3 separate regions of the Homo sapiens genome follow, and all the other regions are linked to region 3. Evidence: fine-mapped expression QTL. A gene starts in region 3. Each other region holds a variant in brackets. All regions are shown on one strand. Distances are between the middles of the regions. Region 1 overlaps BFSP1 (beaded filament structural protein 1). Region 2 has its middle 59 kb from the start of SNORD17. Region 3 holds the start of BFSP1 (beaded filament structural protein 1).

The links. PIP is the estimated chance that this variant, and not a neighbour inherited with it, causes the effect.
Region 1: its variant is fine-mapped to the expression of BFSP1 in blood mononuclear cells (TOPMed, PIP above 0.99). The same link has a PIP of 0.9 or more in T cells and whole blood.
Region 2: its variant is fine-mapped to the expression of BFSP1 in whole blood (TOPMed, PIP 0.91).

Annotation. Positions count from the first base shown.
Region 1 is chr20:17,502,831-17,508,336 of GRCh38, reverse strand. All of the region lies in intron 5 of BFSP1 (beaded filament structural protein 1), which reads left to right. Among named protein-coding and RNA genes, the nearest start is that of BFSP1, 26 kb to the left of the region's middle. RefSeq lists an enhancer at 3,302-3,825. The variant T/A (reference allele first, on the strand shown) is at 2,790.
Region 2 is chr20:17,900,849-17,906,354 of GRCh38, reverse strand. It overlaps the pseudogene RNU6-192P. Among named protein-coding and RNA genes, the nearest start is that of SNORD17, 59 kb to the left of the region's middle. RefSeq lists an enhancer at 2,137-2,196. The variant A/G (reference allele first, on the strand shown) is at 2,115.
Region 3 is chr20:17,529,259-17,534,764 of GRCh38, reverse strand. BFSP1 (beaded filament structural protein 1) reads left to right here and starts at 3,386. Exons shown (of 8, transcript NM_001195.5): 1 at 3,386-3,812. The coding sequence starts at 3,436. RefSeq lists enhancers at 1,173-1,232, 3,046-3,585, 3,586-4,126 and silencers at 3,322-3,371, 3,492-3,821, 3,842-3,891.

The sequences.
Region 1 (5,506 bases), 26 kb after region 3:
GTGAAGCTTAATTTGAAAACAAAACAGAAAAGCCCCAAACTGTCCTGTGGCCTGTGCCTTCTTGGCTACTTGCCGGCTCATCTTCTTTGTTCCTTCCGGTTCTCTCTCTTTCTCATTACCCTACAGCAGGTCATTCCACAGGGACGCTTGGGTTAAAATACTGCACCTTTGTATGGCTCTCTAACCACATTTCCCAAACCAAAAAGTAAGTTGACATTTGGTTTGACAAGTACACATGGGGACAAGAGAGCAAAACGTGTAAAAATCGGACACTTCAGAAAGCCTGGACCATTTGGATGTTATGTGTTACTCTGTCTAAAAATGTGAAGCCACAACTAGATGTAGCGCTTTTTATTGATTTCCAGTGCCCCCATGTCTGCTCAGGATTTCATTTTGGGACCTTGGAGTTCACATCCTAATTCCCATCCCAGCACGCACCACACAAAACTCACAGTGCAGCAGCTCTCAGGGGCTGCTGGAAAGCAAACCCGGGTCTGTGGTGGTCCCCTGAACTGACGATCGCAGCAGGAGGAACCAAGTAAGGCACTTAAAACTCCTCCTTCTTGTGAGACAAACCCTGGCTCAGGGACCATGTGCCTCATCCTGGTGACTGGGGCCTGTGTGGTTTCTTCTGAGGCTCTGACAGGATAGAATAAGGGTTGTATGTGTTTGTGTACATGGGGTGTGTGTGTGTGATATACATGGTATGTGTGATATATGTGGGATGTGTATGTGAAGTGTGTGTGGTGTGTGTGTGTCATGTGTATGTGTGTGTGCTGTGTATGTGAATAGGGACGTGGATACAAGCCCAGTCGTGGTCCTAGAGACCAGTGTTTTCCAAATGGCTAGTGACAACTCATTTTTGGATGTAAAATGAACTCAGTAGAATTGACTGGCATGTAAAAGGAAGTCAACAAAATGCTAGACTAAAATATAATAAGAAAAACAGAGTGTACAGCAAGTGAAAGGGAGGATTTGTTTTGTGAAGCCCTTGTTTTATCTCTCTATATCCATATGGATATGTTGAAATACACACACACACACACACACACACACACACACACCTACCTATCTGATGTGTATGGCTCGCAATGAGAAATGTGGTTTTTCCTGGGGCGGTGGTGATAAAGTTGAAAACCACTGCCCTAGAGATACTGAGAAAGATGAAGGAGCCCAGCCTAGATGGCAAATTCCAGTTCCAGGACAAAAAGAATGTTCCTCTCTTTATGTACAGGTATTTGTTGAATATCAAAATAAGAAATTTCACAACAGATTAACCTGGTTTCTGAGAACATGAAATGAAACCGCTGGTTGGCCGCCTGTTTCTGTCCTGAGTGGCTGCAGGAGGACTTCCTGGCTTTTCCCTGCTGCCCTCGTCTCTAAAGCAGGGTCTCAAACATCTCTTCTGTGCTGCCTCCTCCACTCCCACCCGTGGCATTCTGATGGAGACCGCTTCTCAGAAAAATGATGGTAAAGGCATAAAATAAAATACAGATAATTTAAAGGAAACCAGGCTGGGTGTGGTGGCTCACGCCTGTAATGCCAGCACTTTGGGAGGGCAAGGTGAGTGGACTGCTCGAGTCCAGGAATTTGAGACCAGCCTGGGCCACATGACGAAACCCCACCTCTACAAAAAATACAAAAATTAGCTGGGCGTGGTGGTGCGTGCCTGTGGTTCCAGCTACTTAGGAAGCTGACATGGGAGGACTGCCTGAGCCTGGAGAGGTTGAGGCTGCAGTGAGCTGAGACTGAGCCACTGCACTCCAGCCTGGGCAACAGAATGAGACCCCGTTTCCAAAAAAAAAAAAAAAGAAACTAATTATATTAAAACAGTTATCAAAATATTACTGAATCATTTTAAATAAAATGACAGATGTGCTTATACTCACTCAGTAACAAGCTATAGCATGTAGCTGATGAAACACGGCTGTGTCCATTTTCTGTTGCTGCCTTGATGAGTCACCACCAGCACCCGTGTCATCGCAGTTGTGTAGGTGGGAAGTCTGGGTGGGTCCTATCGGTTTCTCTGCTCTGGGTCTCAAAAGGTAGAAAGAAAGATGTTGGCCAGCCTGGGCCCTTGTCCAGAGGCTGTTAGGGGAGAATTTGCTTCCAGTCTCATTCAAGTTCTTGGCAGGAGTGAGGACCCTGTTTCTTTGCCGGCTGCTGGCCAGGAGTGGCTGTCAGGGCTGCCCAGGCTCCTTGGCTTCAGGCCCCTCCACGTTCGGAGCCGGCAGCGAACTCTGAACCCTCTTCCTGCGTCTCATCTCAATGACTTGGACTTACACGTTTCTCTGACTTCTGTTTTTAGGGGATAATCTTGAATAAACTCCTTTCCTTAAAAAAGGGTAACTGATTAAGAACTTTAATTATATCTGCAAAGTCCCTTTTTGCCATGTAACATATTCAAGGGTGTAGCACCAAGGGGAAAAGGTCACGGGGGCCAAAATTCTGCCTCCTTAGCTCTGATGAAAACCCAGACGTGGCTGGGTGCGCCCGGGAGCTCCTGACTCAGTGGGTCTGGGGTGTGGCCCGGGATGCTGCATGTCTAGGTGTCCCTGTGATGGTGCTGCGGCTGGTCCAGGAGCCACACTGAGAACCACAGGGTAAGGGCGGGTCCCAGGGAGTGGGCGAATGTTCCACCTGGTCCCCCTGTGTCCCAGGCTTGGGCCTCATTTCAAATGTTTGTGGCTGGGTTTTTGCTGGTTTTAAAGGTTTTAGTGGCTTCCCAATGTAGCAGCTAAGCTAGAGCTGAAGGAAGATGTGGCCGCACACCGCCGGGCAGGGCCCGC[T/A]CTGTGGCCGGAACTCGGTGGAGGGCGGGCCGAGAGAGAGCGTCTGCTAGCACCAGGGCCGTGGCAGCGGGTTCCGCCTATGGTTAGGGCGTCCGAAGCTTCCCGAACTCTCCACAGCAGGGGTCGTCAGGGTGAGGTCCCCGTCCCAGCAGCGGGGGCACCACCTGGGAACTTGTCAGAAATGCAGATTCACAGGCACCCCAGACCACTGACCCAGGAGCTCTGGGGCGGGCCGGTGCGCCTTGTTTAAGCCCTCCACGTGGCTCTGCGGGCTCAGTCTGGGAGACGCTGGGCGGACGATGGGAGAATAGTGCCTGGGCTTGGAGCTGGAAGCTGGAAGCCTCTCCTTCAAATAAGTGCACATATACCCGTAAGAGCCCCGGAGGAAGCACTTCGGACAGGTGGAGAGGAAAGGACAGGTAATTCTAGTTCCCTAAATTGCATGGACTGAGAGTTTCTGTGACAGGGAAGTAAAGAAAGTCACTTTTTAAAATTGCAAAGTGGGAACCGCCCATGTCTCATTTCTCATTAAAGTCACTTAGCACCATCTAGTGGTTTAGTTTGTGTAAGACAGTATGTAATGAGTTTCCTTTTTTTTTTTTTTAAGACAAAACAAAAACAAAAACAAAAACAAAAAAAAAACCTTACACCTAAAGGTGTCTGGGGTCCTAAGGACTGAGGTGAGAGCTCACCCCTCCAGATGGGGCTCGCGTCAGGCTCCTGCCTGTGTCGTGCCCTCAGCGGCTCACAGCCCAGTGGGGAGACAGATATAAACCAGGCAATCTAACGGTCCAGGCAGAAACAGCAGTCACCTGGCTCCGGATAAAGTTCAGGTTGCCACATGGCCCCACCGTTGGAGGAACCCTGGGCCAACCTCTCTTCTCTTCGTCTCCTGACCCCTCCTGCAGTTTCTGGGACCTCCCCTTTGCTCATTCCTTCTCTCCTTTCTGGAAGTCCCTTTCCTTCCTCGGTTCCCAGGACCGGTCCTGCCTCCTCCTGGAAGCCCCTTTCTTCCTCTGAGATGCCCTGGGCGTGCCTCCCCTGCTGGACTGCGGCCTTCTAGAGGAGGGTCCGTGTCTCATTCTCCTCGGCCAGGCTGGTGCTGGGTGGCAGTGGACGCCGTGCCACAGTGGCTCTCGTCACAGGCATCTCCATTCCTGTTGAGCTCCTGAGACAGGAGCTCTTACTGGTTTTCCTGAACACTCTTCCTTCTGATGAAAGGTTTAAATTATGGAGCTGTAAAAACCACATCGGTATAGACATCAGTCCACTTTTATAAACCAAGTCATCACTTCACTGGACTCAGCAGAATCCCGTAGAGCATCTGCGACCAGTACGGAGTTGGAGGGCTCTGGGCCTCATGGTCATGTGGGGGATGGGGGCTGTGGGGGCGCCCAGGACAGGAGCTCCTCCCGCAGTGTTCCAGCAGAGGATCTCCAGCCTTTAAAACATGCAGCCTTCTTCAAACAAACACAAATGCACACCCAAGAAAACACCCCATCCCTCCACCCCCTACCACTACCACAAAAACAACAATCACCACTTCCTGAGACATAAAAAGATTGCACTCCACTTGTAGGGTAGAAAGATCACAGGTGACTTTCCTGGGCTCTCATTTCCCATTCTGTGATGCTTTGTGGTTCTATTTACAGTTTAAAACTTTGCTAAGTGAAAACCTGCAAGGAGAGGTCTCTGCATGGCTCACACTGACTTTCCCATGTCTTCAGAGAGAACAGGCTGGTGTTGGCCTGTTGCTGTGTGGGAATGGGGAGTTTGCAGGGGCCCTGGAGACAGAGTGTGTGTGTGTGCACGCACGTGTGTGCTTGCATATTGTTGCCTGCAGCAGGGAGGAGGCTGAGGTGCAGGGCAAGGGTGGCCTGGTTCTGGGAGGTGTTTCAGACCTTGTTCAGGTAGATTCGAATCCTGCTGTGGTATTTATGGGCAAGCCACTTTGCCAGTGTGCCCCAGTTTCCTCATCTGTAAAGTGGAAATAATGACAGCCCTTCCCTGATAAGGTTGTTGTGAGGTTGATGAGTTGACCCAGCTTAGGACTTATCAGCATGAGCCACTACCCCCGCTCTGGGCTGGGGAACCCACACCCAAAAGGAACGGCCACCCCAGAGCTCTTGGGTCAGTGATCTGGGGTACATTCTCTTCATATGTAATTTTTTCTTTTACTCTTTATTATGGAAGATTTCAAACATAGAAAAGTGAGAGATTATAGGTGCTATGGCTCACGCCTGTAATCCTAGTACTTTGGGAGGCCAAGGTGGGAGGATCACTTCAGCCCAGAAGTTCAAGACCAGCCTAGGCAACATAATTAGACCTTGTCTCTACAAAAAAAAATTTTTTTTTAATTGGCTGGGCATGGTGGCATTCACCTGTGGTCTCAGCTACTGAGGAGACAAAGGTGTGGGGACCACTTGAGCCCAGGATGTGGAGGCTTCAGGGAGTCCTGATGGCAGCACTGCACTCCAGCCTGGGCAATAGAGTGAGACCCTGCCTGTCTCAAAAATTAAAAGTGAGAATAGTCTGTCTCATGAGCCCTCCCGCCCCATCCCTCAACACATGGCCCCTCTATGTTCTCTACAGCCCCACACACTTCCCTCACCATGTAATTCCAACACTTCTTTGAGATTTGGGGCTCAAAGGGGTCTTTTCAATCCCCATATTCCTTGAAAGTGTTTCCTGGAGTGTCTGAACACTCTGGTGTGGGT
Region 2 (5,506 bases), 370 kb before region 3:
TACAGTAAACTTCTTATGGGAAAGGGGCTTGGGGACTTTTGGCACACCTTGTGCAGGGGCAGTGGTCAAATAGCAATATCTATCCCTGTGTAGGAATGAAGACGTGAAAGACAGTGTCAGGAGATTGAGGCCACCAGGTGGGTTTCCCCTGGGGTTCTCCCAGCAGCCTCCTGTTGGAGCCCACTCTCCTTCCCCAGGCTCCCTGACAAAGCTGCCGAAGGCTCCTTCTCTGCTCCCTCAGCCCAAGTTATCACCCCTCAACCCACCTTCAGAACTGGCCTCTCAGGAGTCACTTCTCCACTCGGGCCCCATCCTACAGCCCTCTCCAGGCATTAATCTTACTGGCTGGCCCCCTTGGCTCTTTTAACTCTCTGCTGTCTGTGGCCACCAAGCTTCTTACTTCTTTGACCCCCAGAGGACTTCATTCTGACCTCTGCCTGTGCATCTCTGCTCATTCTTCCTTTTCTATTCTTCAAGTTCGACAGCTCTTCACGGTTTTCACCTTGGTCCATTTCTCTTCCCATTCTGTGTGCTCTTCCTATTTTACTGTTTTATTATTTTTACCACAAAGTTTCTTATTTTTTTCTTTATTTTTCTTTTCTTTATTTTTATTTTATTCTTGTCCTTTTTTCTTTTCTGCTATTTTTTTATATTTTTATTTTTGATTCATTTTATTTATTTATTTTTGAGACGGAGTCTTGCCCTGTCTCTCATGCTGGAGTGCAATGGCACGATCTCGGCTCACTGCAACCTCCGCCTCCTGGGTTCAAGCAATTCTCCTTCCTCAGACTCCCGAGTAGCTGGGATTACAGGTGCCTGTCACCACGCCCGGCTAATTTTTTTTTCTTTTTTTTTTTGTATTTTTAGTAGAGACAGGGTTTCACCATGTTGGCCAGGCTGGTCTTGAACTCCTGACCTCAGGTGATCTACCCGCCTCAGCCTCCCAAAGTGCTGTTCTGGGGTTACAGGCGTAAGCCACCGTGCCGGCCAATTCATTTTAAATAAACGTTATTGAGGTATAATTTACATACAATAAAACTCATTCATACATTTTAAGCATTCAGTTGGACAACTTTTGACAAATGCATGCACCTAAACAAGATATAACACCTGTCCATCACCCCAGAAAGTGTTTTAGTCCCCCACTTGCAGTCACCTCAGTCCCAGTTCATCGTTGATCTGCTTTCTGTAACTATAAATTAGTTCTCTTTGTTTAAAAATTTTATATAAATGAATCATATGGTAGGCACTCTTGCATCCAGCTTTTATTTTACACAGTGATTTTAAGACTCATCCATGTTGTTGCATCTATTAGTAATTTCAATCTTTTTATTACTATCCCTTTCTATGAAGAGAACAAATTTTGTTTACCCATTTCCTAGTTGATGGATTACTTGAATTGTTTCCAATTTTTAGCAATCGTGAATAAAGCTGTTACGCACATTTGGATACAAGCCTTTTAAAAAGGCAACCTATTATTCCAATGTAGACTTCCACAAGCTTTTGAGCAATCAAATCCAACAGCATTATGGTGGCCACTAGCTACTTACGCCTATTCACATTTGTGTACAAGTCTTTTTGTGGGCCTATGTTTTTATGGTACTTCAGTAAATACATAACAGTAGAATTGCTGGGTCAAATGGTGGGTGTTTGTTTAGATTTAAAATAAACTCCAGTAGTTCTCCCAAGCAGTTGTACTATTTTATTTTATTTGTATCTTTATTTTTTGAGACAGGGTCTCACTCTATCACCCAGGCTGGAGAGCAGTAGCATGATCACAGCTCACTGCAGTCTCGACCTCCCTGGCTCAGGTGATTCTCCCACTTCAGCCTGCTGGGGTAGTTGGTATTACAGATGCATGCCACCACACCCAGCTAATTTTTTGTATTTTTAGTAGAGATGGGGTTTTGCCACATTGCCCAGGCTGGTCTCAAACTCCTGGGCTCAAGCAGTCTGCCCGTCTTGGCCTCCCAAAGTGCTGGGATTACAGACGTGAGCCACTGCATCCAGCCTGTACTATTTTAAGTTCCTGCCAGTGAGCTAGGAGTTTCAGCTGCCCTACATTCTAACCAATACTGGTATTACACATCTTTTTATTTTCAGCCATGCTTGTG[A/G]GTGTGAGGTAGCATCTTACTGTGGTTTCATTCTGCATCTCCCTGAAGACTACTGAGGGTGAGCATCTCTTCCTGTGCGTGCTGGCCATTTGCATGTCCTTTGTGAAGTGTCTGTTCATGTCTTTTGCTCAGTTTTCACTGTTTGCCTTCCTATTAGTGAGTTGTATGGGTTCTTTATGTATTTGGAATGCAAATCCTTTTTCAGATACAGGTGCTGTGAACATTTTCTCCCAGTCTGTAGTTTGGCTTTTCACAGCAGGAAGTTTTCACCCTGATGAAGTCTGACCCTCTGCCATGGTGGGCCTGGCCTCCAGCCCCCACTCACTCCTTTGGGGTCTCCTTTAACTCATTCTTTTAAAAAAATTTTAAAATAATTTTTATTGATATGGAACTTTTCATGAATTCGTGTGTCATCCTTGCAGGGGCCATGCTAATCTTCTCTGTATTGTTCCAGTTTTATTTATTTATTTAGAGACAGAGTGTCACTCTGTTACCCAGGCTGGAGTACAGTGGCGTGATCTCGGCTCATTGAAACCTGTGCCTCCTGAGTTCCTGCTTCAGCCTCCCGAGTAGCTGGAATTACAGGCATGCACCACCACGCCCGGCTAGTTTTCATAGTTTTAGTAGAAACGGGTTTCATCATGTTGGCCAGACTGGTCTCGAACTCCTGGCCTCAAGTGATCCGCCCACTTCAGCCTCCCAAAGTGCTGGGATTACAGACGTGAGCCACGGTGCCCGGCCTTCATTCCAATTTTATACATGTGCTGCCAAAGACAGCACTTTGACTCCTTTCAATCCTTTGCTTTCCTGCTTTGCATATCAGCTTGCCCAGCTCTTGCACCCAGTCTTGCATAAATCCCTTCTCAGTGCTCAATTTTAAAAAAAGAGAGAGGGCGGACGCTCCTTGGAAAGGAGAGACGATCTTTCAGTCCTTCTCTCACAGTTCTTTCTCTTCCTCCCCATTTGCTCTCTCCTCCCCAGCCCTGCACATCATCTCTTCTTTTCATTCTCTTTACTCCTCCTTTACTTCCTCTCCCCTTCTAAGTCTCATCTATCTTGGGCCAAAAATTAGCTTTTTAAGGTAAAATCAGGTCCCCTTCCCCATAAAGGCTTTTATGCAAAGTGTTCTAACAAAAACGTCTCCAGCTTCAATATTGCCAGAACAAATTCTCAGGGCTAGGCACCTAGAACCTAAATTCTGCCGTACCAGGAACCCCAAATTGCAGTGTTATAGAAATGAAGAGACCACAGACAGGTCAAATTGAGGAGATGGTATTTCTTCTCCTGTAACGCCCTCACCTGTGTGAGCTCCCTCTCCAGCTGTGTACCTCTTGTCAGATGAGACGATGAGAGGCTATGGCAATGCTAATTACTCTCACCTGCATCAGAGCCACTCACCTGGGTAGCTTTTAATTTCCCCCACTCTCTCCCAGAGCTTGGCTCTACCCATTAGACAGTTAGACTCTGGTGGTTTTCAGAGTGTAGTCCCCAGAGCAGCCACATCTGCACCGCCTGGAAACTTGCTAGAAATGCAGTTTCTAATTAGGTCCCACACTTCCACATGCATCAGAACCCCTGGCAGGGACTGTGAGAACAGTCAGAACAAAGATTGCTGGGGCTGGCCACAGAATTCAGTGGGTCTGAAGTGGGGCCTGAGAATGTGCATTTCTAACAGGTTCCCAGGTGACAATGTTGCTGTGGCTCCAGGGGGCCCTCTGAGAAACACCATATTAAAGATTCTGATTCAGTTGGTGTGGGTCAGACGGTCCGGGCATCCCATGTTCCAATGCTCCCCTGTGCTGTGCAGCTGAGGTTGGGAGCTCCTGGTCCATGGTCTGCGTTGCAGCACGGCTAGAGCCGCACATCTGCAGAAGACAAGAAAGACCCTCCTAAAGGGCTTCTTCCTTCATCTAAGTTTTCATCACAGGCAAACTCTGTGTGTCCAGTGTACTTGGGGCTTGTAATTTTCCTCCAAGGACCTGTAGGACCCTCTCCAAGTTTGAGCAGGTCTGGCATCCCAGGGTGCTAAGGCCTGCTGGCAGCTCACGTGCTTGGCCCCAGGTACTCTGGGAGCTGTGAGAGTTCGACCCAGAAAGGTGGATCCCTTGAGAGTTCTGGGCAGGGCCACAGCCCCCTTGGTTGGAAAGCGACGGGTCCCTTTTGGTGCTGGTGAGCTGTAAGCAACAAAGCTGTTGCCAAGGGCCTCTGGAATATGACTGTTTCTGAGGCTGTTACAAAATTATATTAAATTCCCAAATGATGGTATTCATTGTAATATATGCAAGCTTTTTAATGTATCAGCCATGCTTATATCAGGTGTGGTCACCTAAGAGTTTTGATTGTTTTTGCTCTTTTATTGATGCATAATTTGCATATAGTAAAATACACAAATCTTAAGTGGATGCTCAATGAATTTTTACCTATGTATACACTCATGTAACAACCACCAAGATCAGGATAGAGAACATTTCCATCATTCTAGTAAGTTCCTTCAGGCCCTTTCTCACTCAATCCCCATCTCCCACTGCCCTAAACAAGTAGACACTATTCTGACCTCTCTCATCATATGTAGATAAGTTTTGCCTTTTATTTTTTTATTTTTTATTTTTATTTTTTAAAAAGGGGTCTTAGTCCTCTGTGACTCAGGCTGGAGTGCAGTGGTGTGACCATAGCTCAATGCAGCCTTGAACTCCTGGGCTCAAGCGGTGCCCCCGCTCCAGCCTCCCGAGGAACTGGGACTACAGGTGCACACTACCACACCCAGCTAATTTTTAAAAAATTTTTTTGTAGAGATGGGGTCACCCTATGTTGCCCAGGCTGGTCTTAAGTTCCTAGACTCAAGGGATCCTCTGGCCTCAGCCTCTCAAGGTTCTGGGATTACAGGTGTGAGCCACACTGTGCCTGGCTTATTTGATATCTTGTGATCAATATTGTGTTTTTGAGATTCATTCATATTTCACGTAAGAGCAACCCATTCATTTTTCTTGCTGTGCTGTACACCACAATGTATTTATCTATTCTTCTATTGATGGGCATTTGAGTTGTATTTAGTTTTTGGCTGTTATCGATTTAGCAGCAATGTGTATTTTTGTACATGTTTTTTGGTGTGTGTACGCACTCATTTCTTTCAGGGTATATACCCAGGAGTGGAACTGCTTGGTCACATGGTGAGTGTATGTTTAATTTTAGAAGAAACTGCCAAATGGTTCTCCAAAGTGCTTGTACTGGTTTATACTTCCACCAGCAGCATGTAAGAGTTCACTTCCTCCACATCCTCACCAATGCTTGATATTTTCAGAAATTTAATTTTAGCCATTCTAGGGAGTGTATAGTCACAGCATATTGTGGGTCTAATTTGCATTTCCCTGTAACCATTGAGGTTGAGCATCTTT
Region 3 (5,506 bases):
TACAGGCATGAGCCACCACACTCGGCCCTATACTGCATTTAGATGTCCTGTCTCTTCAGTCTCCTTTAATCTGGAACATTTTCATAGCTTCTCTTTGTCTTTTATGATATTAACATTTTTATAGAATACCATCCCCCTTCTGTTTTTATTAATAGGATGTTCCTTCTTTGGGATTTATCTGGATGATTCCTTATGGTCAGATATAGGCTACATATTCAGGTTATGCAGGCCAGATAAAAGACGTGTATTTCTCAGACAAACCAAGATACCCTTGAGAGTGAAAGATGGTGCTTGCTATATTTACGCTGAGATAGTGGGTGTAAATGTGTCTTAGGCAAACTGGGATGTGTGGTTACCCTACTTACATAAGTGATTATTCTCATTTTACCAGTCTCCATACTGGGACTAGATAGGTTAAATCACTTACTGAAGTGATGGGACCAGAACTTAACCTCAGATCTTTCTTATTCTAAAACATCCATTTCCTGTCCCTGCCCCCAAACTAGTGCCATTCAACTGTATTTAGAGTAACTCTTCCATAGCTGACCTTTCATCAAGTCCTGTGGAATCTATCTCTACGAACATGTCTCTTGAATTAACAAATTCATTCAGCAATGATTTCTTCCTTATGCATACGATCTCTACTCCTACTGAATGGTCTCCTATCAGTGATATGGTCTTTAGGGCTGTTGACAAATATTGCACACTCCTTCTAAGCACATAGCAGGATTGCATTTCCCAGTGCACCTGAAGTTAGACAATACAACCACAGCATTTTGCTAAGATCTTTATTTTAGAAGTTGTCCAGATTATCTTGTGTTTTCATTAGTCAGTATGGATTCGCCTCCTGCACCCTGAGGGCAGAGACTTGATTTTGTGCAATATTTAACTCTGAGGCTACGCTTTGTGAGGAGATATTTTCTGAGTGTTTATTTCACTGGATTAAATTGAAAGAATTTTTTGTTATGTTTCTAGAATATATTTTTCTCAAATGGTATTGCCATGTGTGGTCGATTGAGTTGTGGGTCCTGATTCTCCACTCCAGCATGATGGGATTATCCACCCACACCCTTGCCAGGGCCTCAGGCTGAGCCCTGCCTCCTCCTTGCTTCCTCTTGACTTTATTTGTGGCCATGTGATTTGCTTTGACCAATGAGATGTCAGCAGACATGATGCAAACAAAGGCCTGGGATGAGCTTGTGTGGCTGGGCTTGCTCTTGTGCTTTTTTCATTGCTAGTTTAGAAGCTTGAGGGACATTGGGAGCAGAGCAGCCCCTGCTGAAAGGAGACCTACAGCTGGAAGACAGCTGAGCTCCCAGCCCCAGGGAATGCAGTGATAAATACTTCTATTTTGTTCTGTAGCAATATTTGACTGATACATGGTATCATAGGGAACAAATGATTTTATAACTCTTGCTATATGTTGGTTTTGCTCTCGTGAGGAAGCCTGAAGTCAATTTACCATGCTATCAGCATGGTATATGTGCACCTACAAAAATATTCATGTGGTTATCCTCAATTTGACCATACAATTACATTTTATGTATTTTTATTTATTATTTTTATTTTTATAAATAAAAGAAATGGGGGTCTCACTATGTTGCCAAGGCTCGTCTTGAACTCCTGGCCTCAAGAGATCCTCCCACTTTGGCCTCCCAAAGTTCTGGATTAGAGGTGTGGTCCACTGCACCTGGCCAAATCTAATTTTAAATGGTTTAAGAAAATAGAACAATAACCATGCCACCAGCACAGTTTAGGGCCTTGCAGAGCTTTATTCCAGACGGAATCTATTATCTTGAGGTAATATTTTGGTGTAATAATAAACTCCACAAAGATCTGTGTAATTTTCTTTCTCTATCTTTGATAACTATGACTTTAATTTGTAGTATAATCACACACAATCCATATAGTTAGTAATTATATGGTACTACTAATCCTTTTAAGAAAACAACCCTTTTGATACTTATTTTTAAAGTTGGAGATATGACAAAATATTTACATTCAGAAACATTCTCATCAAGTGGTATTAATTTCTTTTCTTAAATTTACTTTTAAATTTGTCAAAGTCTAGCTATTAATTATATATATATATTTTAAAAGCTTGTCCTTAAAATCCAACTATTAGTTCCATAATAAAAATTAAAATGGAACATAATGGCACAAAATCCTTTATTATTCTCGAATTGAGGGTTGGCCAATTAATGGCGGATCACTTGAGCCCAGGAGTTTGAGTCCTGCCTGGGCAACATAGCAAGACCCCATCTCATTTTTTATTAAAATTTTTTTGTATTACATTTTATGTTAAAAAAAGAAAAAGAAAAAAGCAATCTTTTTTTCTTTTTCTTTTTTTTTTTTTTTTTGAGACGGAGTCTCACTCTGTTACCCAGGCTGGAGTGCAGTGGGGCGATCTCGGCTCACTGCAGCCTCCGCCTCCCAGGTTCCAGCGATTCTCCTGCCTCAGCCTCCCAGGTAGCTGGGATTACTGGCACACGCCACCACGCCTGGCTAATTTTGGTATTTTTAGTAGAGACGGAGTTTCACCATGTTGGCCAGGCTGGCCTCGAACTCAGGTGATCCGCCCGCCTCGGCCTCCCAAAGTGCTAGGATTACAGGCGTGAACCACCTATTACAGGCCCATGGGTGGGGCTCTATTTGTTTTTTCCATTCAAGAAAGCATGTCAAACTCCATCAGAGCATGGGTGAATTATAAAAACATAACCGTGCATGTCTCCTAAGTTATTGTAGGCTTTTATGCACGGGTATTACTAAGAAATTACTTGCGCCACACCTCACTACTTAATGGAGACATGCCATTTTATTTTGCATCCATGGTTAAGAACCTCTGCTATACAGAAGGGTCCTAAACGTCATGTTATGATTATGAAAAAGAATTGCATGCATAACCGAGCAATTGGAAATAAAAAAGACCAAAAGAAAAAAAAAAGAATTGCTTAAGTAATCAGAAAAAAAAAATGGCATTGTTAAAGAGTTCTACAATTGAGTTTGAATGCAAGAGGAGACAAAGTGACAAGCCCTGGGCTCTTGAGCTAGTCCAAGTTTAAAGAGTTCGCTTGGGGATTCCTTCACAGTCCCCAGTGGAACCAGTGAAAAGAGCGTCATGGCTCCCGTGTCCCCTGACCCTCCATTCAATCAAAAGCAACAGGCCTGAACAATCACGGAACAAAAACCTCATTGCCCAGCGTAACCTTCCAACCCCGGAGCTGTATGGGCCGCTAATCCGCCGCACAAAGCGGGCCGCTGCTCTTTTCTTCTCCCGCGCCCGGGCCCAGCGTGGCGCCCAACTGCTGATCGGCTCTGGAACGTCCCAGCAGCGCGCCGGGGGCCTCCGGTGTTTATTTAGCGGGCTGCGGGCTGCGCCGGGGGCCTCCTGGAGAGCCGGCTCGGCGCCGCCCGCGCGCCCGCGCCAGAGCAGCCATGTACCGGCGCAGCTACGTCTTCCAGACCCGCAAGGAGCAGTACGAGCACGCCGACGAGGCTTCGCGCGCCGCCGAGCCCGAGCGCCCGGCCGACGAGGGCTGGGCTGGGGCAACGAGCCTGGCGGCGCTGCAGGGGCTCGGCGAGCGCGTGGCCGCCCACGTCCAGCGGGCCCGCGCCCTCGAGCAGCGCCATGCCGGGCTCCGGAGGCAGCTGGATGCCTTCCAGCGCCTGGGCGAGCTGGCCGGGCCCGAGGACGCCCTCGCCCGCCAAGTCGAGAGCAACCGCCAGCGCGTCCGGGACCTGGAGGCCGAGCGCGCCCGGCTGGAGCGCCAGGGCACCGAGGCGCAGCGCGCGCTCGACGAGTTCCGAAGCAAGTAAGCGGCGGCCATCGGGGGAAACCGAGGCAGGGCGTGGGCCGTCCCGGCGGCGCGGGGCTGGGAGCACGCTGCTACCATGCAGGGGTGGAGCGCCGTCTCTGGTCCCCTGTCGATCGATGACCTCATCCCTGCACGCAGGTGGCACATTTCCTTAAGCTAAGACTGGCTTCTGTTTTGATGGCACGTCACAGTTTACACGAAGTTGTATCATTTACTTTTCATCTATTTTTAAATTTTGGTATAACTTACATGTTATAAAATGCACAGATTTGAAGTGCATAGTTCAGTGAGTTTTGACAAATGTATATACCCGTGTTACCACGAAAACAAGTGAGATATTTCCACTACCCCTGAAAGTTCCCTCCTCCCCTTTCCCAGTCAGTCCCCTTTGCCCCAGACCGGAGGCACCCATTCTGATTTCTATCACCATAGATTGACTTTGCCTATTCTACAGTTCCACAAAAATAGAATCTTACGGGATGTACTCTATTGTCTGGCTTCTTTTGCTCAGCACATTGGTTTTGAGATGTACCGATGTTATTTAATCCTTACATACTTATCTTTACTGCACCTGTTTTACAGATGAGGCGACTGAGGCTCAGAAAATGTAGGGATTTGGCCAGCAAGGCCCCTCAGCTGGCGAACTGCTGTCCCGGGACTGGAATTTAGGTCCTGGGCATGCTAAGTCTAATTGCCTTCATGGCATAGCAGCTGACACCTGGGAATTATGCTCAGTATGTGTCCTCTAGTGTCTTGATACTCAAAGTGCGGTCCATGGACCAGCAGTATTGGCATCACCCGGGAGTTTGCTAGAAATACAGATTCTTGGGCCCACCCTAGAACTCCAGAATCAGAATCTGCATTTTAACAAGCTCCCCAGGTGATTTTCAGTTTAAAAAGTTAAATGTTGACTAAGCAGCACTGGTCCAGGGCATGGTCTCCCCTCCCACAGATTGAGTAATGTGTTAAAATCACATAGGAGCTGTTAAAAAAAAGATGCAATTTGTCAACATTTTTTCAAGTTATAAATGTGTGTGCTCTTTGACTCAGAAGGCTACTTTGAGGAATGTATTATAGGATGCACTCCAGCAGGTGTGCAATGGCATGCCTCCACCAATACTGCAGCAGGTACACTCCAGCAGGTGTGCAATGGCATGGCTGCAAAGATACTCACTGCAACAGGTACACTCCAGCAGGTGTGCAATGGCATGCCTGCAAAGATACTCACTGCAGCAGGATCTGCAATAAGCCTGGAACCAAATAAATGCCCATTAAAAGGAGACAGGTGCTTCCTCCATGTAATGGAATACTATGCAGTGGAAAAAAGTATGTTATTGTCATGTAGTCTTTTAAAAGGGGAGGAGAGTAGAGTTTTTTTTTTGCTTGCATAAAAAGAATTTCAGGACACACACAAAGACACACACACACAGACACACACACAGGCACATGCCCCAATGACACTGGCTACCTGAGGGAGATAAGTGAGTAGGAACTGAGCAATTGGGAGACAGAGGTGGGAAGGAGACTTTTAACAGAACATCTTTTTATATCTTTAAAAAAATTATTTAACTATGGGCTGGGTGCAGTGGCTCACGCCTGTAATCCCAGCACTTTGGGAGGCCAAGGCAGGCAGAACACTTGAGGTCAGGAGTTCCAGACCAGCCTGGCCAACATTGTGAAACCCTGTGTCT